Homo sapiens: one gene and its partner. The protein of the gene in region 1 purifies or fractionates together with the protein of each later gene. This does not show direct contact. Each region holds a gene or a part of one and is shown on either strand. Other genes may lie near its edges.

Region 1 (7,000 bases):
TTATTAGCCAAATTGGTAATGTTGAAATAGCAGCCATGGTATAAAACCAGAGGATTACTAATGTTCAGATAACCATTTCTCTAAGCATTTAAGGATAGTGTTATCTACACTTGAAAGTTAAAGTATGGAGGAGCAGCTTGATCTAATGGAAGCTCTGGCTTTAAGAGTCCAGAGAGCAAGATTCCAGTCTCTGCTGTTTCATTAACTTTAGTTAACTGTACAAATCCTGTGTCTGAGTACAATATATGCACTTTTTTTGTACCATGGTTTCTTTATGCTAATGTCTGTCATGGTAAATTACATTCTTCAGTTCTCATGTTAGATGTTTGTCTTCGGATCACAGGTACCCTCTTACCAATTATACTTTTGGTACAAAAGAGCCCCTCTACGAGAAGGACAGCTCTGTTGCAGCCAGATTTCAGCGCATGAGGGAAGAATTTGATAAAATTGGAATGAGGAGGACTGTAGAAGGGGTTCTGATTGTACATGAGCACCGGCTACCCCATGTGTTACTGCTGCAGCTGGGAACAACTTTCTTCAAACTGTAAGTAGTGTTGGAAATTAACAGCAAGACAGTTTTTAGTAGGATTGCTGTTTATGCAGCTCTGGAATACAATTTTAGCCCTCGGTCATTCATTTCAACAAACACTGCTGTTAATGATGTCTTTAGAAAGAGAAAATCATGAGTAATTTTTCTCCATTGCAGTGCTCATTTATTTTCCTAACTAGTAATCTGTATGTTTCTGTATGTTGTTGATGTTAATGATTGAGCTTGGTAGAAACCCCATGGAATAGTTGAGTCCAAGATCAATGTCTAGATGTCATTGTAGCATTACCAAGAACAATTGATATTTCTTTCTTGGTATGATTAGCATTTCCTGTTCTTAAGATGACTTAGGTTTTTGTGGATAACAGTTTAGTGTTTTATCATTTAAGCTCCTACATCTCTCAAACATTTGATCCGTAACTATTTGACTAGATTATACCAAAAAGAAAAGTCTCCAATACTTAGATGACGTTCTTGAAAAAGTTTCCCATTCTTTAGGCCTAAAGAATGTGATCCATTCCTCTCTGAGCATTTCTAGACTCCATTATCATCAGATAGCTCCCAGAGAGGAGATTGGGATGGACTGGTGGTTAGCAATTTTGTTTATGTTTGTGCTATGTTATATATTCTGTTTGTTTAAAACTAGGGTTTATGTGATGGGTACATATGGACATAAAGTTGGAAAAAATAAACACTGTATACTCCAAAGGTGGGGAGGGTGAGGGGGAGGCGAGGGTTGAAATACTTCCTATTGGATGTTATGTTCACTGTTTCAGTGATGGGTTCACTAGAAGCCTAAACCTTAGCATTACACAATATACCTATGTAACAAACTTGTACATGTACCCGTTGAATCTACAATAAAATAAAAATAAATATATACGAAGAGGAAAAAAACCTAGGGTTTGTATACTGTTAGTCTGGGGAATTGACATGAATTCAAGCATATTCTCCCCCTTCACTTTGATACTTGTTTTGATTGCCTTATTATGCTGAAATATGTTCTTAGTGACTTGGTAGAAATAACAATTATTGTGTTATTTGTTATCTCCAAATTGTATTAAGTTGAAAGCTGAAATTCTTAACTTTTATACAGACCTGGTGGTGAACTTAACCCAGGAGAAGATGAAGTTGAAGGACTAAAACGCTTAATGACAGAGGTATTTTTCTGTTTAACCACTTTGAATACCATCAACTTACTAGTTATTTGGCTTTTAATGTCTTGTAAAAAGGATGCTTATTTTGGAATATTTAGTTTTCAATAAATACAACTTAAACTCCAGAAGGTTAGTACAATGTTGATTTTTTTTTACAAGTTGAAGTTACACTTATTTCAATTTTTAAAATGTTAAACTGTGTCACAGCAATGGTAAATTAAAACTGACATTTAAGTATTACTGTGCTAGACACTGTTCTGAGTGCTTTACATGCGCTAATTCCTTTAATCACCACCACAACTGTAGGAAGTAGATATTATTAAGTTTAAATTACTTCTTGTTATATAGCTAGTGTGTTGTAGAGCCAGAGGTTTGAATGCAGGTAGTTTTGTTCAAGAGTAGGCCTCTATAGAATTTTGAAAAGAGAAAGATGCCTGTGTTTTCACTTTTTTCACATATTTTTTAGACTTTGCCCAAATTATTCTACTTTTTAAAAATCATTGTAATGCCTGCATGTAAAGACTTGGGGCCAAATGCATAGATACTGAGGATTTTGAGATTGTAAATTGTTTTCAATGTTAGTTTTCTTCTTTAACATTCAATTGCCGCCTGCCCCTGTTACAAAGCTCATATATTCTCTGTGCAAAAAGCTTGGCAAACACAGAAAAGCAAAGGAGAAACAAAACTAAAGTCACCCGTAATTCTCCCACTTTTGACCTATTGGTTTGTCTTTCTAGTATTTCTAAAAATGTATTATAACTCTTAAACATTTTCCTGTGCTTGGACTTCCATTTATATAATGTATGGTACAAAGATATAAGTCCATTAAGGTTGAGGGAGTGCAAAATGAGAGAATCACAAAAGCAAAATTTTTGGAAACTGGAAAACAGATGGGCAAATTATAACTAACTTAGCAGAAACCTTAGTCCAGCAGACAGGCAGGCAGAATCTAGCATTGCAGAGTACCAGAATGACTGAGGAACTGAAGGTGCTAGGTACTTATGAAAGTGGGGGCATGCATGGGCTGAAAACTGGACTGGTTCAAAGTATATATGGAGTATATTTATACAGGTTGTGTATTCCTTATCTGAGAGCTTGGGACCAGAAGTGTTTAGCTGCTATTTGATAGCACAACAGGGTGACTATAGTCAATAATCACTTAATTGTAAATTTAAAAATAACTAAAAGAGTATAATTGGATTGTTTGTAGCACAAAGGATAAATGCTTGAGGGGGTGGATATCCCATTCTCCATGATGTGAATATTACGCATTGCATGCCTGTATCAAAACATCTTGTGTACTCAAAAAAATTAAAAATTAAAAAAGTGGTTAGGATTTGGGATTTTTTTCAGGTTTTGGAATATTTGCATTATACTTACCAGTTAAGCATCCCATATACAAAACTTGAAATGCTCCAATGAGCATTTCCTTTTTTTTTTTCTTGAGACGAAGTCTCTCTCTTGTCACCCAGGCTGGAGTGCAATGGTGCAATCTTGTCTCACTGTCACCTCCGCCTCCCGGGTTTAAGCGATTCTCCGGCCTCAGCCTCCCGAGTAGATGGGATTAAAGGTGCCTGCCTCCACGCCCAGCTAATTTTTGTATTTTTAGTAGAGACAGGGTTTCACCATGTTGACCAGGCTGGTCTAGAACTCCTAACCTCAGGTGATCTGCCTGTCTTGGCCTTCCAAAGTGCTGGGATTACAGGCATGAGCCACCACGCCCGGCCTGAGCATGTCCTGTGAGCATCATGTCAGTGCTCAAAAAGTTTGAGATTTTGGAGTTTCAGATTGGGATGTTCAACCTGTGTATCTAGATTGTCTTCCCCACTCTGTAATTAGGCAAAGACTGGCTGATGATTCTCTGTAGTAATTGAATCAGAGAACAACTAGCAATGAAAAAAGTTTAGGGGATGGGGAGAATAAGAGTTCCTATTCTGAATAGTCAGACTCTTGGACCTCTATTAGGCTGACAGAATGTTAACAATTAGGCTTGTTTTTTTTTTTTTTTGTTTTTGTTTTTTTTTTTTTGAGGCGGAGTTTCACTCTTGTCGCCCAGGCTGGAGTGCAGTGGCGTGATCTCCAATGTGAGCAATGGTTGCTCACTGCAACCTCTGCCTCCTGGGTTCAAGCGATTCTCCTGCCTCAGCCTCCAGAGTAGCTGGGATTACAGGTGCCCACTACCATGCCCAGCTAATTTTTATATTTTTAGTAGAGATGGGGTTTCACCGTGTCGGCCAGGTTGGTCTCGAACTCCTGACCTCAGGTGATCTGCCTGCTTTGGCCTCCCAAAGTGTTGGGATTACAGGTGTGAGCCACTGTCAGTCTAGGCTTACTTATTTTTTTTAGAGACAGGGTCTCACTCTGTTCCTCAGGCTGGAGGATGGTGGTGTGATCATAGCTCACTGTAACCACAAACTCCTGGGCTCAAGCAATCTTCCTGCCTCAGCTTCCTGAGTAGCTAGGACTGCAGGTATGTGCCCATGATGCCTGGCTAATTAAAGAAAAGTTTTTTATAGAGATGAGATCGTGCTATGTTGCCCAGGCTGGTCTCAAACTCCTGGCCTGAAGCAGTCCTCCCAAAGCATTGGGATTACATGCATGAGCCACCAGGCCCAGCCAACAATTAGATTTATATATCCCAGGCTGAGGGTTGGAATTCTTGTTTCTGGAAAAAGTGACCAGTCCAAGAAAAACTTCAGATACTGCCATTTGGGAGCTGTCTTCGTCTGTTTAATGTTGCTATAACAGAATACCTGAGGCTGGGTAATTTATAAAGAAAAAGATTTATTTGGCTCACCAGTTCTGGTGGCAAGATTGGGCAGCTGGTGAGGGCTTCATGGTGCTTCCACTCATGGCAGAAAGCAAAATGGGAGTGGGCATGTGCAAAGAGACATGGCAAGGGAGGAAGCAAGAGTGAATCCAGGAAGCCACACTCTTTAACAACCCTCTCTCCAGGGAACTAATCCATTCCTGATGGAGGAAGGGTATTAAACTATTCATGAAGGATCCACCTGCATGACTCAAACACCTTCCACTAGGCCCTGCCTGCCAACACTGTCACATTGGGGATCAAATTTCAACATGAGTTTGGGGGCAGGGAGACAAACCATATCCAAACCAAAGCAAGAATTTTCTATAGAAATAATGTAGTCCTGGGCCAGGCGCGGTGGCTCACACCTGTAATCCCAGCACTTGGGGAGGCCAAGGCGGGTGGATCATGAGGTCTGGAGTTTGAGACCAGCCTGACCAGCATGGTGAAACCCCGTCTCTACAAACATAAACAAATTAGCTGGGCGTGGTGGCGGGTGCCTGTAATCCCAGCTACTCGGGAGGCTGAGGCAGGAGAATCAGTTGAACCCAGGAGGTGGAGGTTGCAGTGAGCCAAGATCATGCCACTGCACGCCAGCCTGGGCAACAGAGCAAGACTTCGTCTCAAAAAAAAAAAAGAAAAAAAAATATTGTAGTCCTATCACTCATGCACACAGAGGTGACAATTAAGCATCTTGTTGCTTCTCCCTTGTGAGTACACAACCAACTATCACCAGGCTTTTGGAGAAAACTTCTTAACAAGAAAAAGATCAAAAGAAGCAAAAGGACCTCAACAGAAGCAGAAAATTCAACCATTGACAAAACTATGATTAATATTCTTGGTGAGATGAGAGGAGATTTTGCACCTGTGAAACAGTGCTATTAAAAAGACATTTTAGCCAAGAAAAACCTCATGGATATTAAAAAAATGTTGGAAGAAATGAAAAATTCAGTAAAGAGTTAAGAGGTTCATTCTACCAGAAAATAGAATGAAAAGATAAAAAGATAGAATGTAGGTAAGAATAGATAAAATTAGTGGGTCATTCTAGAAGGACCAATATAAACTATAGATAAATAGAACAGAGTAAAAGGAAGAATTAGCAAAGCATAATTAGAGAAAATTTCTCAAACCTCAAAGGGCATGAGTTTTGAGATTGAGAAGACCTACTGGCCTTGCCTCTATAGTGAATGTTTAAAGATCCACGCAAAGGCATATCATCATGACGTTTTAGATCCTACAAACGAAAATAAAAACAAAAAGATGTAAAAGCTTCCAAAGTGGGAGGTGGAGGATTGGTAAGCAGAGAGGTTAAATGCAAAACATCAAAATCAGAAATTGCATTAAACTACCCAGAAATAATTCTGGAAGCTAAGGGATGGTGGAGTGTTGTCTTTGTAATTTTGAGAGAATATAATCTCTGTCCTAGAATTTTCTAATCAAACTATAAATCAAGTGTGTGGGTAAAAGTTACTTCTAGACATGCAGAGTTTCAAAAAGTTACATCTCTTGTACCTTTTCTCAGGAAGCTACTAGAGGGTGTTCACCCCCAAAATGGAATAAAATAAGGACTCCAGCTGTGAAGCAGGGTTGAGACTATCAAGTACAGATTACAGCAGGATGATAGAAAAACGTGTCTTAGGCTGGGTGTGGTGGCTCATGCCTGCAATTTCAGCACTTTGGGAGGCTGAGATGGGCAGATCACGTGAGCCTAGGAGTTTGAGACCACCCTTGGCAACATGGTGAAAAATTAGCCTGGTGCTGTGGCTTGCATCTGTAGTCCCAGCTACTCGGGAGGCTGGGGGCAGGGGAGGCTGAGGTGAGAGAAGCGCTTGAACCCATGAGGTGGAGGTTGCAGTGAGTGGAGATCGCGCCATTGCGCTCCAGCCTGGGTGACAGATCTTGTCTTGAAAAAAGGAAAAACATGTCTTAGAAAAGATGAAATTAATAGAATAACTGACAATTGATATTTGAATTGGGAAGAAATTTAAGTTATCATGGAGAATGTGGGAAATGAATTTAGTGATAGCAAAGGAAATGAAAGTTATTAACTAAAGAATAGGACAGTTGAACAAGTAAGGAGATACGGTTTGCTAATCATTGCTCTGTTGTGACTGATCTACCGGATCATACTAACTTAAATACTGAATATTGACTTAACCAAATATTGATAATGGGAAGATGGTGGAAGAAAAAGTGTAACTAGGATGTGTGATTTTAATATCTAAATTCTCATTCATAGTAGAGGGTTATAGGCTTTTAAAAAATGTTTTTAAAATGAAAATCAAGAGGCCAGGCGCAGTGGCTCACGCCAGTAATCCCAGCACTTTGGGAGGCCGAGGCAGGTGGATCACAAGGTCAAAAGATCGAGACCATCCTGGCCAACATGGTGAAACCCTGTCTCTACTAAAAATACAAAAAAGCTGGGTGTGGTGGCGGGCACCTGTGGTCCCAGCTACTCGGGAGGCTGAGGCAGGGGAGTCGCTTGGA
Region 2 (17,208 bases), on another chromosome or scaffold:
GTGGAAGTACTCCTGACCTCAATGCTCCCTGACGTAACAGGAAAACTGAAACAGGGAGATGAATCAGATGGCTCAGAGTATACCTGCTCCTATGACCTTTGCTAAAAAGCATACTGCCCTTGCAAAGCAGCTCAAGCTATTGCTGAAAAGGTGTCATGGTTACTAAAGCTTCAATAACTTGAATAAATAAGATAAGCCTAACAATCTTGTTCTGCTTGATAAGGAATCCTCATTGGTGAGGAATCATTCCAGTCTCATATTTTTCCAAGCACTATTCTAATAATTGTGATTCTTTTTTTGTTTTTGTTTTTGTTTTGAGACAGAGTCTCACTCTGTTGCCCAGGCTGGAGTGCAGGGGCACGATCTCAGCTCACTGCAAGCTCCACCTCCTGGGTTCACACCGTTCTCCTGCCTCAGCCTCCAGAGCAGCTGGACTACAGGTGCGTGCCACCACACCCAGCTAATTTCTTTTTGTATTTTTAGTAGAGACGGGGTTTCACCGTGTTAGCCAGGATGGTCCTGATCTCCTGACTCCATGATCTGCCTGCCTTAGCCTCCCAAAAGTGCTGGGATTACAGGTGTGAGCTACAGTGCCCGGCCATAATTGTGATTCTTTAACTATGAAAACAATATTTTAGGCCAGGTGCAGCGGCTCACACCTGTAATCCCAGCACTTTGGGAGGGTGATGCAGGTGGATCACCTGAGGTCAGGAGTTTGAGACCAGCCTGGCCAATATGGTGAAACCCCGTCTCTACTAAAAAATACAAAAATTAGCCGGTTGTGGTAGCCCATGCCTGTAATCCAGCTACTCAGAAGGCTGAGGCATGAGAATCGTTTGAAACTGGGAGGAGGTTGCAGTGAGCCAAGATCACCCCACTGTACTCCAGCCTGGACAAAAGAGCAAGAAGACCCTATCTCAAAAAAAAGAAAACAATATTTTAATGTATTTGTATGTCACTATGATGCATCTCACTACACCTATACAGAAAAGTTCTGAACCACTAAAAATTCCTCTTAATGGCAGAAATTCAATTTGCATCCACATACAGATAATCCCTACCCTTAACCACTGTATACATTTATCATACTGCCTTATATATCGTAGGCTAATTAATGTCTGTTCAAACTAAATGTCTGAATACATGAATGAAGAGATCAACTTCAATAATCAATTACAGTAACATTTAACTCACTAGTTTAACCTTTACTTTCCTTTAAATTAGCTATTTATATGCCTAAGATGCACAATTAGCTATTCAGATGTCTGAGGGCAGCCAAGTCTAGTAACCAACAGCATAAACTGTGGAACCAGACTCCAGGGATTTTAACCAGAAATTCCACTTTCTAGTTGTGTGACATAATCAAGTTCCTTATCTATGCCTCAGTTTCCCGTGCCTGTAAAAAGGGTAATAATAGTTCCTACCTAAGATTGATATGAGGTTAAATGAATTAATATTTCTAAGGAACTGAGGTGTTTGGCATTATTATGTGTTTTTTGTTAAACCAAAAAAAAAAAATCAATAGCCTTTCTATATTATAAAGCTCTTTGAGGCCGAGTGTGGTGGCTCATGCCTATAAACCCAACACTTTGGGAGGCCGAGGTGGGAGGATTGCTTGAGTTCAGGTGTTTGAGACCAGCCTGGGCTACATAGTGAGCACCCTCTTTAAAAAAAAAAAAAAAACTTTAAAAATAAAAATAAAGGTCTTTGAAGGATGAACCTTATTAAATTCATCCTAGCATACTGCCTAGCATACAGCAGATGACTAATATATGTCTGAAAAATGAACATGGGTATATTTCCTACTAGAAAAGGGATGTTTACACTTTCAAATTAGAGAAGGAACCTTGAGAGAAGCTAAATATAGCACACTGAAAACTGTTGACACATCTTTTAAGAGTAAGAAGAACTTGAAGAATGAAGACACACCTAATGTCCCATTCAATACCCCCTAACAAGGGGAATAATTATGATTTCCTCTGTGACACTGCTATGTCCTGTACACATACACATATAACCCAAGGTTGTAAAAGCAAAACAAGGCTGGGCACAGTGGCTCATACCTGTAGTCCCAGCACTTTGGGAGGTCAAGGCAGGTGGATCACCTGAGGTCAGGATTCAAGCCACCCTGACCAATATGGTGAAACTCTGCCTCTATTAAAAATACAAAAATTAGCCAGGTGTAGTGGCATGTGCCTGTAGTCCCAGCTACTGGGGAGGCTGAGCCCGGGAGAACTGCTTGAATTCAGGAGGCAGAGGTTGCAGTGAGCTGAGATCATGCCACTGCACTCCAGCCTGGGTGACAAGAGCAAGACTCGTCTCAAAAAAAAAAAAAAAAAAAAAAAAAAAAGAAAGAAAGAAAGAAACAAGAAAATTTGTAGTTTCTGTAGAGCATCTCATGCCACTAACCCCAATATAACAAATCCTCTGCTCAACAATAAAAACTGAGTTCTAAAGGAAAATACATTAATATAGCACTTGACAAGTTACAAGTTACAAAGTACTTTTGCATATACTATATCATTTGATTCTCTAAAAAAAAAAAAACAACAACAAAACAGACAAATACTGATACTACCATATCATGTTTTTTTTTTGGTTTTTGGTTTTTTTTCTGAGACGGAGTCTCACTCTGTCACCAGGCCTAAGTGCAGTGGCCTGATCTTGGCTCACTGCAACCTCCACCTCCTGGGTTCAAGCGATTCTCCTGCCTCAGTCTCCTGAGTAGCTGGGACTACAGGCATGCACCACCACACCCAGCTAATTTTTGTATTTTTAGTAGAGACGAGGTTTCACCATGTTGGCCAGGATGGTCTCCATCTCTTGACCTTGTGATCCACCTGCCTCGTCCTCCCAGAGTGCTGGGATTATAGGCGTGAGCCACCATGCCCGGCCCATATGCTGTTTACAGAGGGAAAAAACTGAACCTCAGGGGAGATACTTGCTTAAAGCCTGCGCATTTATAAAGTAACATAGTAGAGATTCCAACCCTGGTCTTCTGGGCTTTAGATCCCAAATTCTTTCCTTCTCTTTTCATTATAGTAACAAAATAATAATAATAACAAATATTAATTAGTCATAATTGTCCATGTAGAAATTAAAACTTAAAAGCTTCCAAATTCATTGAATTTCTTGACACAATTTAAGGACTAATGTATAAAAAAGAGCTTGGCTAGGATTTCCTAATTACTTCAGAAGTTTTGGAAAACTCCATAAATTTATTGTAAACTGATTAACTCAATACTACAGTAAAGCATGTTTCTGAAACAGCTGTTTCAATGATTCAGAAATGAAAGCAAGTATCACTAATGTATGTACTTCCCTATTACCACATATTAAAACTAAAATTCATTTTGCCGGGCATGGTGGCTCACACCTGCCATCTCAGCACTTTGGGAGGCTGAGGTGGGCAGATCACTTGAGGTCAGGAGCTCGAGACCAGCCTGGCCAAGATGGTGAAACCCCGTAAAAATACAAAAGTTAGCCCAGTCTGGTGGCACACGCCTGTAGTCCCAGCTACTTGGGAGGCTGAGACAGGAGAATCGCTTGAACCCCGGAGGCAGAGGCTGCAGTGAGGCAATATGACACTACTGCACTCCAGACTGGGTAAGAGAGCAAGATTCTGCCTCATAAATAAATAAATAAATAAAACTAAAATCCATTTTAAAAGTCCTTTTATCTAGTACTAAGCATCACCCCATAGTAACAAAGATGCTTATCAGTGAACCTGGCTAGGAAAGCCGCTTTTTGCTATTTGAGTGCCCACAAAAACATAAAAATTAATCAACTTTATTAATGCAGTATCCTCAGTATTCACTGAGATTTCTAAGGTCTGTCATTTATTTCATTCTATCTCAACACAAATGTCATACCTTCCCTCCCACTCCCAGTTTCCACCCAATAGGTTTCCTTCCCTTTGTTTAGTGGACTACAAGTCCCCGCTAACCATCTCTAGCTGTAAATAGGGTCATTATGAATACACATCCACAATGTAAATAAACTTAGAAAAGGAACAAAAATATGTCAGCCAGATTAAATTTCTCTAAATTAAATATACCTTTGCAAAACTGTCATTTCCTAAAATTCACAAAGTTAGCTATTCAACAAAACAATAATCATTTGTCTTTTGAAAAACAAAGTTCAGAAAGTACATACCTGAAGGATTCTGAACAAATCCAGGATTTTGTGGATGAACTGGTAAAAACTGTTGTCCTTGACCAAAAGCTACTGGCTGAGCAACACCACTCAGAACCTTTAAGAAAAACCTTAATTTTAAGAACATGCTTTCTATATTTCAAGTAAAACTTTTAACATCCTAATTACATAAAAATATTCATAGATGTCACAAGGCCTGGCTTATAAATAAAGATTTAGAAAGATAACTTGGCTGCATCACTTCACTTCTAGGTCTTCTACAAACAGGAACAATAAAACCTTCCCTTATCTGTTTCATAGAGGTATAAGTTACTGAGAATGGGTTAAAACTTCTTTGAAAAGTTTAAGGTACCTACTAGAGAGGCAAAGTAGCCCCCCAAAAAGGAAACTGTAAGATACCATGCAAATATAAGGTAACTAGCTGTGTTACTTTACACAAGTCACTTTACCTTGCTGGTGCTTTCCCTTATTTTACAAATAGAAGAACTGACATAATGCAATATGATCTATACACAATCACAAGGGCTAGTTAGGAGCAAAACTGAGGCCAGAACTCCTAACCCTTGCCACTTTTCCACAGATATCAAAAGCCTGTTCTAATTAGCATTCTGAATTACCAAGCAGGTAAGCATCTTGCTTGGCCATCATCTTTGCACATGGTTATAGCCACATTACAAAGTAATCTTGTAAAAGGTCTTGTAAAAGATGTCAAAGGGAATGTTAAAAAACAGAATAGTCATGGAGCAAGAACTATACTGGCATACAAATACAGCATTTGCAGTCCAGAGGGAGGCAGGACTTCTACATATTGCTGGTATGTGAATAAATATCCATTTATAATCCTTGTTCAGTATACATGTGGACTTTTGGTAGTGAGTACACATAATAAAAACCCCACCGATTCTGTGTAATGTAGAAACAAGACTAAGTAAGTACCATTCTAGAGTATCTGTCAATAAGAGTATCATTTCTTTCAAGGATATACAGTAGAGTAAATCTAGGCAAGCCAACTGTTTTTTCGTACCATTAGAGATGAACAGAAGGACTACTTTCTATCAATAATGTTCCTAATGTACTTTTAAAATCTTTCTTATTTTGTATTTTCTTCCATGCAATCTTACTACTATAAAATAAATCTGTCATAGTAAGAAAATGTCTGCACCTGGAAAAGAAGTAAAACTCAGCCTAGGAGAATTTCAGCACGCAAGCAAAAGTAGTCATTCAAAACCAACCGAATTAATCACAAATTGTAAACATACTGCCTTAAAGTTGTCTCAGTATGCATTTTAAAATGTATACAGAACAAGTGTGAAAGAATACCAACAGGTAACAGTGCATGTTTCGTAACCAGAGTGTATTTGGAAGGCTATTCGCTATGTTGTCATTAATATCAAACAATTGTGTTTAACTGAAGTGACTGGAAAGGTGGTAAAAAGTAGGAAAAAAGGACCAAAAAAAAAGAATTGTAGACTGTGAAAGCAGGGACACAATTTGATCTTCTTATTTAACTCAGGTTAAGGAAATTCTTGGTCAAAGAACAGTTCAATCAATTCTATGGCTACCTTAAAGCACGTCAGGGCTCAACAGTTCTGCAATGTAGAGGTCTATGACACACAATTGTATAATATCTCAAAAGCTTTAAAGCAAAAAAAAAGGAAAAAGAAAAAACAGAGCTGGAGGTGGGGGTTTGATTGAGATATTTCCCTAGATCCTGAAAGAGCTAAAATCAATTTTGGATTTAAGTTGCAAATTTCATCCCCAAAAGATGCTCATCCCACTTCCTTAGCATGTGGCTTTAGAGTACATTAAAAACTTCTTTCCAATCTACACAATAAACTATGTCCTGAAAACCCTCCTAGAAACATTAAAAAATGGTTAACTTATCTGCATACAACGCAATTTTAGAATAACAGACTTACCTGTTGAGATGCCTGAATATTTCCTACTGTCATTGGAGCAGGTATATTGCCAAAGTTTCCAAATTGAGAACTCTGAAGATTTTTTTCATCAAAATAGTGTCCAGAAGCTCTGTTAAGTGGATTAGAGAAACTCTGGTTTCCAGGGCCATGTGGTCCATTAAAATTTGGTCCTTGAGGTGAATCAAATATTTGTTCATGTCTTTGGAACTGTAGTCCTTGGGATGGGGCATTAAAAGCATTGCCAGGTGGATCATTATATGGACCAGTCTGATTGAAAGATACTGATTCAAGCCTTTGTGAAGGATGATTGTCAAATCTTGTGCCTTGAAGACCAAGAGGAATATCAAACCTTGATGCTTGCTGATGTTGTGGACCATCAAATCTTTGAGGTACACCGTCAAATCTGGGTTGAACCTGCTGTCCAGGTGGTCCATCAAACCTCTGAGGGCCTGGCTGACCAGGAGTCCTTTCAAATCTAGGACCTGGCTGACCATGTAATCCATCAAATCTTGGCAAGAGTGACGGCTGACCTGGCTGCCCATCAAACCTTAAAGCATGACAACCTTCAAATCTTGGACCACCTTGACCCAGAGGCCCTTCAATTCTCAGGCCACCTCCTGGTACAGAAGGACCCTCAAACCTCATTCCACCTCCTTGTTGGACTAAAGGGCCTTCAAACCTGATACCAACCCCTGGCTGACCATGTGGACCCTCAAACCTAAGGTTCCCACCAAGTTGATTATGTTGTCCCTCAAATCTCAGACCAGCTACTGACTGACCATGGGGGCCCTCAAACCTCATTCCAACCCCTTGCTGTAGCAAAGGGCCCTCAAATCTGATTCCACCTCCTGGCTGACCATGAGGTCCATCAAACCTAATCGCAGCCCCTGATGGACCATGACCCCCCTCAAATCTAAGTCCACCTACAGGCTGACCTCGGGGATTATCAAATCTAAGTCCACCCACAGGCTGACCATGAGGTCCCTCAAACCTTAGACCACCCACAGGTTGACCACGATGTCCCTCAAACCTCAGACCACCCACAGGCTGGCCTCCTGGTCCCTCAAATCTCAAACCACCTGGAGATCCCTCAAACCTCAGACCAGGGGAACCTTCAAACCGAAAACCACCTCCTCCTGCTTGACCAATTGGGCCCTCAAACCGCAGAGGTGTCCCCACTGGTCCTGGAGGACCTTCAAATCTCAAAGGACACCCACCTCCTAGCTGACCTTGTGGCCCCTCAAATCTCAAAGGGCCTCCTCCCCCCATTTGTCCTGGTGACCCATCAAACCGAAGAGAAGCTGGTGTGGGAGGTCCATCAATTCGAGGGCTTAATTTATTGGGTCCTTCAAAAATCATCTTCGTTGGGCCATCTCTTGCTACTGATGGCCTACTAGGTCCATCAAATAACGGTCTGTCTTCAGCTAAAGCTGTAAGTCGCTGATTTGTATCCAGGCCGGCGAATCTTGATGCTGGACTATCTACAAATGGTTTATCTGAATCTTCATATCGAGGTCGCTTAAGTGGAAAACGATCATTGAATGGAGATCTCTGCTCTTCTCGCACACCTTTTAAAAAGGAAAAAAATTATTTTCACTAAAGTTATCTTAAAATCTTCTATTTTCGTATGAATGTTTATCCAAATATATAACTATCTCACTACATTAGAGGGGCAGGAGAGACCGACAGCGTAAAGCAGCAGATAAGAGGATGCCCTCTAGAGTCAGACACACCTGAGTAACAAAAAAATTACCATCCTATCAACATACTAATTATTTCATTTTGAGAGCAAGTTATTTAACCTCTCTTTTATTTCCTATCTGTAAAATAGGGAGAATATACACTTCATTGTATTGTTGTGAGGATTAAATCAAATTACATATAAAAAATACCTAATGAAGTACCTGACACACAACTGGCCTTAGAAATATTAGCTCCCTTCCCTTCCCTTTCCTTAAAGGGAAAAAACATAACAAAATAAATGGGAAAAAAAATGGTAATCTGAACAGTCACAAAAATCCATCCCCACTTAGCTTGTTCATTTTCCCTTCACTGCTGTGTGATTCAATAGGCATAATCTGATTTAACTTTTTCTACCTTTAGCAGAGACTTGCTCGTCATGTCTTCTCCGGCCCTCATGGGGTGAAAGATTCTCAGCATAAGTACGACTCCCAGATATAGGAGAAAGACGTCTTGCTCTTTCACTAAATTGTTCTTTTCTGTCAAACTGTGCTCCACTATTCCTACTTGCATGTTTACTTTTGGATGGCTCACATTCTATTCCAGACAACAAGGCATCAGTCAAAGGGTAGTCAAAAATATCAGGATCTAAGAGATCAAGTCTTGGAAATGAATGCTGAACCTGTGTCCTTTTCAGTTTTGCTTTATGTTCATAGTAGGTTAATTCAGCATCAGATAAGAGAGGTTTCTTTTTTAATCCACCTTTATTTTCTTCTGTAGGACTATCCCGTACATTGCATCTATGTTTACCTTCTTGATACTGAAATAGCTGTCGAATTTGATGCACAACAACAAGGAAGTCATCCTGTGTAATTTCACCAGATGCTAAACGTTCACTCGTCTGTATAGGGGTGATAAAAGGAAATAAAATATTTTAAATATAAAAAAATACCAAAAAAATAGACGATAGATAATGATGACTACATGGGATTAATCATAGTAACTACCTTTTGAAGTAATTCTCTTTTGCTTGCAAGAGTTAACTCTTTAGGAATCTGAAGATTGGCATCTACACTTAATCGATGCTGTTGCTGCTTTGGGGCTCGAGGTGATAAAATTCCTTTAGTGCTTGACCAGCTCTCCCTATGCCTCAGATGAGGAGGTTTACTATGTTCATCAACCTGTTGTAAGCTGAAACCATAAAAGCAGTATGTTACATTGAAATGTTTTTTTAAAAAATACTCAGGACCATATTTAAAGATTCTTTTCAAAGGATATGGTTAAAATGGGCATATGTAACCACAAAAAGTAATTAAATAAATGATTAAGAGCACAAAATATGAAATCAGCAAAAACAGATATGAATTCTGATTCTTGCATGTCCTGGACTGCAGCCTTAGGTAGATTAGTTAACCTTTCTAAACTTCAGTTTCCTTATCTGTAAAATAGAAATAATAATAGTATTTAACCCACAGAGATGTAAGAATTAGATGGAAAAAAAGTACTAATAGCACCTAATAAACATTTTCCAATTTTTAAATTAACACTATCTTTTGAAACATATACACTACTACACTTGACTTAAAATGTTAACATCATACCTTTTATTTTCTTCCCAACCAGATTTCCATCTTTTGGCAGACTTGGAACTTTGCCAGTTTTCTACATTCTCCTTTGGTTCAGTGCCTGACTTTGTAGAATGCTGATTTGTAGTTTCTTGTGGTCGCTCCTCTTCAGTCTTTTTCATTCGCCTTGGATCCCGAATATCCTGTTTAGTACTTCTCTTAGCATTTCTGTCTTCCCTAGAAGGTGGTGTAAACTCTTCCATATGTGACTGCTTAGCTCCAGATTGGCGAATCTTTCCAGCTTTAGGTGTCGATGTTGGAGACATACTTCTTTGCCTTCGTTTGGGTGACCGCCTATCTCTTCTCTTTGGGGAATGTATAATTGGTGACCTAGACTTGGGTGATCGAGATCTTGATCGCTTTCTAGTACTCGATCTCCCTGGTTTTGTCCCCTGTTTTTCTGACTCTTCTGTTATTGTATCCTGTTTTTGTACAATGCCATTTATGATTTTATTTCTACTTCCAGCCAGTCTGTGTTCGGATGACTTCATGTGCTCATCTTTATCCTTTTTTTCTGCAGTTTTTCTCTTCTCTTTCACATCATCATCTTTGCCATCGGTCTTATCCTGAAGATGTTTTTTTAATCTTGGATCTCTCTTGTTCATATCAGACAACCTCATACTTTCCGATTCTTGATTTTTCAAGTCTTTTGTGTGAGATAATTTGTTTTTCAAAGGTGAGGGTGATTTCGATTTCGATTTCGATTTAGAATCTAATTGGTCAAGTTCTTTCTTGGTTATTTTTTCACCTGATTTACTTTTTTCTTGCTTGGATGAATTTAGTTTTTCAGAGGGTATAGTTTTACTTGTCTTAGTATCAGACTGGTTTAATGTGTTCATTAGAAATTCTTTCCTGTGACTCTGATCTTTTCCATGAGAATGTTGGCTTATCCTGTTCAGACGAGGATCCCGGTTAGTTCCTTTTAAATCCTGAATTTGTAAGGATGGTCCTGGACGGCTTTTCTCAGATTGCACAGGAACCTGATGAGGAGCTTTAACTGCCATAGGGGGAATCTGTGAAACATGTAATTTGGATGGTGCAGATCCAGGACCTAAATTGGATGTTTCCTGCTGAACACTAAGAGAAACTGCCTAAAACACAAAATAAATGTTCATGTTAACACTGCAGAACATGCAGATTGTCAAGAAATTGCAAACAACTGAAGAAGATAATGCTTTATTCAATAAATATATTTACTCAACACTACATTTAAATTGTACACTTATAATGTATAAATTGAGATTACAATGAAAAGAAAAAGTCCATGATTTAAGTTGCCCATTATTTCTTACTAGTATTTTTTGAGACTTTATAATATAATCTCTAAATAGAATGAAAAAAAATTGTTTCTCTTCCTTATTGTTCAGGATTCTGAGCCATACTGCTCCTAAGAAATTGCTAAATCACTACACTCCGGCTGCACAAGAATCAGAGTCATTTCAGCTAAATTCTAAGTCCTAAAATTTAGTTTCTCCCAAAGTGGTGCTATTAATGAACTTATAAAATTCTGCCTTCCTGCACCTCACTGTCGAATAAGCTCAGATGCTAAGCAAAATAACTTAGTATAAAGTCATTTATGTGTAGAAAGATATAATCTTCCTGGCCTCCTTAATTTTGTCATTTCTGTTCATGGAGCATAAGCTCATAAAACATTAAAGACTATGCAAAAATATTTGCCACAACATGCCTACCATCTTGGGACTGAAATATTAAGTCCACATAATGTAATGATTAAACAAAATTAAGATGCTATTTTATAAGATAGCAATCTAACAGAAAACTGTTTGGAGGAAATAGTGTAGTTTTGTAGTTTTTGGAGGGTTTTCTTGAGACAGGGTCTTGATCTGTCACTCAAGCTAGAGTGCAGTGAAGCAATCATAGCACACTGCAGCCGCAAGTGATCCTTCCAACTCAGCCTCTCGAGTAGCTGGGATCACAAGGATGCACTACCCCACCTGGCTAATTTTTTTTTTTTTGGTAGGGCCTCACTATGTTGCCCAGGCTGGCCTCAAACTCCTAAACTCAAGCGATCCTCCCACCTCAGACTTCCCAAGTGTTGGGATTACAGGCATGATCCACTGCGCCTGGCCTATGCAGTTTTTAATCAAGTGAATTTTACAATAAAGATATAAAAGTATAGTCTAATAAATATACTCATTTGTAAAATAAAAGTGAAAAAAGAGTACACTATTAATAAAAGTAACATGTTAATAAAATTCAAACATAAACATTACTTCCCTATTGTTAGACAGGTTTAAAATATTTAAAATGACAATCTCCCTTACTTACCAACTGTGCCTTAGCTTGCTCTAGCTCAAGCTCCAGCTTTTTCTGCTGAAGTTCTAACAACTGTTTTTGCTTTGCCAGTAACTGCTGCCTTATTAGTTGTTCTTGTGTAAGATTCTTTTGTATATCAGGAACAATTGGAGGAGTGGAGATGCTAGGGGAACTGACCACTGTACCAGGTGTTGAAGGCTCCTCGGGCTATAAGAAAAGACAATTTGTTTAAGAAAAACGTATCAGCTAAAACGGAAGCTAGGGAGTAAAAATTATCAGCTTAACTCTTAATATGATCCAAATTCCTATCACACAGAAAACTTATCAGAAATTTAAAACCCAAAATAAATGTTACATAATACCTAAACAAGGTGAATATATTTCTAAATAAAAATTCCAAACATATACACACTATTTTTTTTTTTTTCAAATTGAACCAATTCACTACCGAGTATTCTATTTTGACTTTCTGGCAGTAAGTTCTGCAGAAGAATTCAAAATGTGATACTTAAAAGTATGTTACTTACTATTCATATTAAAACTTACCGATTTATTTAAAAATTTAGGATTCACATGGATGCTAGACGTATTCACATTGGGGGGTAGAGGTTTAATAGGCCAAGCAGGATCTAATGAATTGACTCTGACATCCAGGGCATAAAGTTTCTTCAAAGGGAATATTTCATCCCATGTAGAACGTAACTTAAATAAACTTTTCCTAGTATTTTCATCCACCTAGAACAACAGAACAATTCTATGGCTTGTTAAGTTACTATAGAATATTTTATATATTAAATATAAGTTATATAAATCTGCTCTACTTCACATACAGAACTGTACTACCCATTGGTAAGTATATACAACAGTAATAATTTATTAAAGGTGCATTTCTCCTTCAAAAACAGAGTAATTAAAACCATTTTCACCTAGCCTTCATGCAAGCAACCAACCAGGTGAGCCTTTCTATATACAAAACGTTTCCACATCTTAGAGCTTAGTATAATATTCCTAAAGTTACTCTTTCTCTGGGAAAAAAAAATGTAAGACAACTAGAAAATATAAAACTAAAAAATATAAAACAACTAGAAAAATTGATTACCTGATGGCTTAAATGTTTTAAATTATTTACATAGTAGTACAAAGTTAAAATTAAAGCAAAACTATCTCACTAACTAATGCTCAGCAATACTATATGGTTGGGTACATAGGAACAAGATATTGTGGTGTGGAAAGCACTTTAACAACTGAAATTCACAAAATCTTAACCACTGATAAGCCTTAGTTTTAAATAACTTTTCTGTTCAGGTTTGTGATGGCGTAAAAATGTTTAGAAAATTTGCCATTGCCAGGCACGGTGGCTCACGCCTGTAATTCCAACACTTTGAGAGGCCGAGGCAGGTGGATCACCTGAGGGAGTTCAAGACCAGCCTGACCAACAATGGTGAAACCCCGTCTTTACTAAAAATACAAAATTAGCCAGGCATGATGGCTCATGCCTGTAATCCCAGCTACTCGGGAGGCTGAGGCAGGAGAATCACTTGAATCCGGGAGGCGGAGGTTGCAGTGAGCCGAGATTGTGCCATTGCACTCCAGCTTGGGCAACAAGAGCAAAACTCCATCTCAAAACAAAAAAAAGAAAAAGAAAGAAAATTCGCCATCAAGAAACCTAGGACTTGGGAAAACTGAGTTAGATTTTCAACATTAGGATAGACAGTAAAGCCTTAACTATATTCATAAGTCTTCAGATAATAATGTATTTATTACAAGGTCATTTTAATCAACTGTCATGTTAATGCCCAGTTAGATTCAGTAAAGGTATGCTACCAAACACCCAAGTGAATTTGAACATACTGAAACCGAAACCAAGAGGTTGGTTAAGCTTCTCCTTAAGACTACAGCCTCTGGTTAGCAGTATTCAGCAAATGTCTACAATATTCTATTAACAAGCATTTTAATGCTATATGATATAGAGCTTTCCAGATTTCTTCTGCATATACTGTTTTTCTCTAAGAACTTAAAAACATTTCTCAAATAGCAACTACTTATTTTCTAATAAACATGTAAAATCTAATACTGAATAGTTCTTCCAAAAAAAATTCCAATTCTACAAATCTGACAACTGACACACAGGTGTTCATCTACTAAAATATAATAACTACCACCAAATATTGACGTTAGGAAACAATCTTTAAACCTAAGTATCTCATAAGTGCCTTTTTGTTCAATGTGAAAGATATAGCCTGACAGGCAGAGAATTACCTCAGCAAATCCCTTGTCCTCCTCAACATAATACTGCTTTAACCAAACCACCATGTTACAGTGTTATGGAAGAAATTTACAATCTCTAGATATGAAAAATAAGCCTAATTTCTGAACACTAAGGTAGGGGCAAAAGTATTTCCAGAATAACCAACAGCAATTAACTGGTCCACCATTCACACATACCAACAACATTCACCTAAAACATACCTTGAACAATGTAACAAAAGTAAACATTTCCAGAAAACAAAACAAAAAAACACACAAGTTTCAGGAACCAATCACAGGTTGAGACACTGAGGGATTATGCTTTTTACCCCCCCAAGAGAACAGTCAACATCCTAACACCAGAAATGTAAACAATGAAATTTTAATTACTCTTGACGATTTCAGATCTTTTTGCCTGGTTTGTAAGTGATGAAACAGATGTTCAAATGAACACACTCAATTTTTTTAAAAAGCACAATTCTAAAAGCAAATCCATCTATTCTTAAATGGATAATGTAAACCCCTAGAATCTGTTCTAAAAATCTAACATAAAACATTAACTTCAGCCTCTTTCTTTGAAATGGTACTAACGATAAATGTCCAAAAGTATAAAACATTTCACCACCCAAGAAAACCCAACACAAAGCAAATATTTATTTAATCAGGAACACATTTTTTAAAAAAAAACGCAAATGTTTCTAAATGCATATGTACCTTTTCAAACACACAAATAAATGTTGCAACTAGATTTTTAGTAAAGGCAGTGAGATACTCTCTTCCAACGTTTTTCACAATAGAATCCATAAGGTACATAACAGGAAGCTTCTCTGAGGAAGGAGCCTGAATAAAAAGAAACTGAGAAGTTTAGTATAATGAATTACCACCAAATAATTATTTAAAAATGAGTTTTTAAACCTACAATACAGACCTCTATTTTTGTTGATACTAAATATTTTTGAAGTAATCTTTATGAAACTTAAGTGTTCAATCAAGCTCTCAACTCTCACAATCCTTAGTTGAGCACAAAAAAGCTCAGAATTACCAGGATGAACAACAGCTGTAATCCCTAATATACTCATTTAACACTCAATGAAATTTCAAGTTCATGTGGTAAAAAGACCTGTGTTTTAAGTGACAAAAATAAGGAGGAGGCGAGGGAAAATTACTTTATATAATCCAAGTGTCAGTTTTGTGACCCATATTAACTTACAACGGTGTGCCTACACTCAAAGCAGTTTTTAGACCTCTTGTAGAAACTAATTTCCATGGGCATATTTTATATGTTCAAGTCTATGAAGCTTTTGTTACCTGTAAAATCATTAGGATTACTTCTCTATAATCCAAATGAACAAAAATTAAAAACACTTCACCTAGGAAGTCAATGGCAAAACACTGAAACTTGCACACGAACATGCAGGAAGTTGCAAGTTTGTTACTCAGACAAGAAAAACTGGATGGAGCAGCCGCTGAATCATGTAAATCAGGTTGAACTTGACTCTGGAAACCAGGATTTGTCCTGAAGATTTTCTTCACAGCCTGGACTCTCCGCCGAGATATTTTCCTCTGACATGCACAAACCAGGGGTTATAAATTTGTGCAGAGCCAGTGTGGTGATGCTGATACAGGTGGCCCTTTCCAAAGTAAAGAAATGTTGCCCCAGTTCAACTGCAATGCCTACCCACCACTGGCTTTTAGAAGGCACAGCAAGCTTCCAGAAAGCATCAGCAGGTTCACAGACTTGTTGAGGAGCATTAAGACACACCATAATAGTTTTAACTCTGACTCCAAAGGAGCACCCATGATTTAAAATAAAAAAAAAAGACAAAAAAAAAAAAAAAAAAAAAACTTAGGTTATCCCCATTTACCCACCCCACGTGTATAGGAATCTTAACCCTAAGTAACACTTACCCATAGCTGCCTGAAGCTAGGGTAGGCTCACAGTTCTGGAGTACACAATGCCATCATATATAATAAAACCAATTGCCCATACAAGTGTGTGGAAATGCTCTTGCTTCTGATAACACCTTTACAACCAAAAGTTGGCTAAGGGAAGCTTTGAATAACTTTGTATGAAAAATTTCTTTTAAGGTACTGTCTAATAAAAGGGTTCACCCACTGCATGTGGGTCAACTATATTAAGTACGAACATGTCAAATGGTTTACTGCTGTGTCTTTACCTTACCATGTCATGTTTTACACCATTTTAGTCATTATTGTACTTATGAAGATAAACAGGCTCTCTTAAACACCAAAGTCTGTTAAGTAGGCTAATTTTTTATTGTACAAGTGAAGTCCTTTTATGTATTATTTTTCGCTACTGCTCTCTCTTGGGAGGAGTCAAATTAAGTGTGAATCCTTTAAGTTTAGTAACGCAGAGAAGCTAAAGAATAAGGACACAAACATTCACCTCCAAAACACAAAACCAGGCCAGTTTGCTACCAAATAACGGAAATCCCTCCCCTCACCCTCGATCCCAACCCAGATTAAGATAGATCCCCCAAAGTGACTTTTACATCTTTTCCTCAACCTGGCTTTACAAAAATAACCAGGAAACGTGTGCCCCCAAAATTTCAGCTGTCTTTTACCAGCAAAGAGCTCATCTATTTTCATCACTGTGTAGCGATATACAAACACAAGTTTTATGTGGTCACTATATTCAGCATTTAGTTTTCGGTTCTCGAAGGTCTTCCGGATCCATTAAAAACCAGCAAGGTTCTTTGAGTGACAACCTGAGCTGCTAAATATTAGGCGCTGTGGAATATTAAATCCCAAGATACGAGGTAATTAGATTTTAAAAATCAATGTTTTTGCCTTAAAAACACAAGTGCTTTAAGGCATTTAATGTCAAGTTAAGCCTTCAACAAGGCAAAAACTAAGTTTTCATGTCCAAGATGTTTGTGGTATCAATAAAAAGCATGTTGAGTATGACGAATGCTTCCTTTTTAAATCTCACACTTAAAAAAAAAAGCTGTTTTACATACACTTTCACAGGAAAAAGTGAACGAAAACTTGTATCTTAGCTGTCAGACTGAGCATGATAAACTTGTTGAGGTCCTTAAAAGGAAAAAGAAAAAAAACCCTTCCTTTTCGTCCTCTTTAAATTATGAAAGGACCACCTGAAACCGTGTATCTTGTGAAGAGGTTTACCCAAAAGAGTGGATGGAACCTAAAGAAGAATGAACCCAAGTCACTTAAAGACTTTTGTTTAAAACACACAACCACGTAGATAAAAATAAGTCTTGGAAACAGATTCTACACCTTACAAAGGTAAATAAAAAAGACAAATACATATTTTATATGTTTTA

Evidence for each region.
Region 2: the proteins of NUDT21 (region 1) and PCF11 fractionate together in Homo sapiens (co-fractionation; 2 studies listed by BioGRID). This does not show direct contact.

Annotation. Positions count from the first base shown.
Region 1 is NC_000016.10:56,441,333-56,448,332, reverse strand, and holds part of NUDT21 (cleavage and polyadenylation specificity factor subunit 5), read left to right. Parts: intron 1-343; coding exon 344-544; intron 545-1,643; coding exon 1,644-1,707; intron 1,708-7,000. UniProt on the Homo sapiens protein: Component of the cleavage factor Im (CFIm) complex that functions as an activator of the pre-mRNA 3'-end cleavage and polyadenylation processing required for the maturation of pre-mRNA into functional mRNAs.
Region 2 is NC_000011.10:83,158,862-83,176,069, reverse strand, and holds part of PCF11 (pre-mRNA cleavage complex 2 protein Pcf11), read right to left. Parts: intron 14,744-17,208; coding exon 14,618-14,743; intron 12,392-14,617; coding exon 12,203-12,391; intron 11,864-12,202; coding exon 11,669-11,863; intron 10,471-11,668; coding exon 9,356-10,470; intron 8,946-9,355; coding exon 8,762-8,945; intron 8,656-8,761; coding exon 8,172-8,655; intron 7,643-8,171; coding exon 6,075-7,642; intron 4,253-6,074; coding exon 4,156-4,252; intron 1-4,155. UniProt on the Homo sapiens protein: Component of pre-mRNA cleavage complex II, which promotes transcription termination by RNA polymerase II.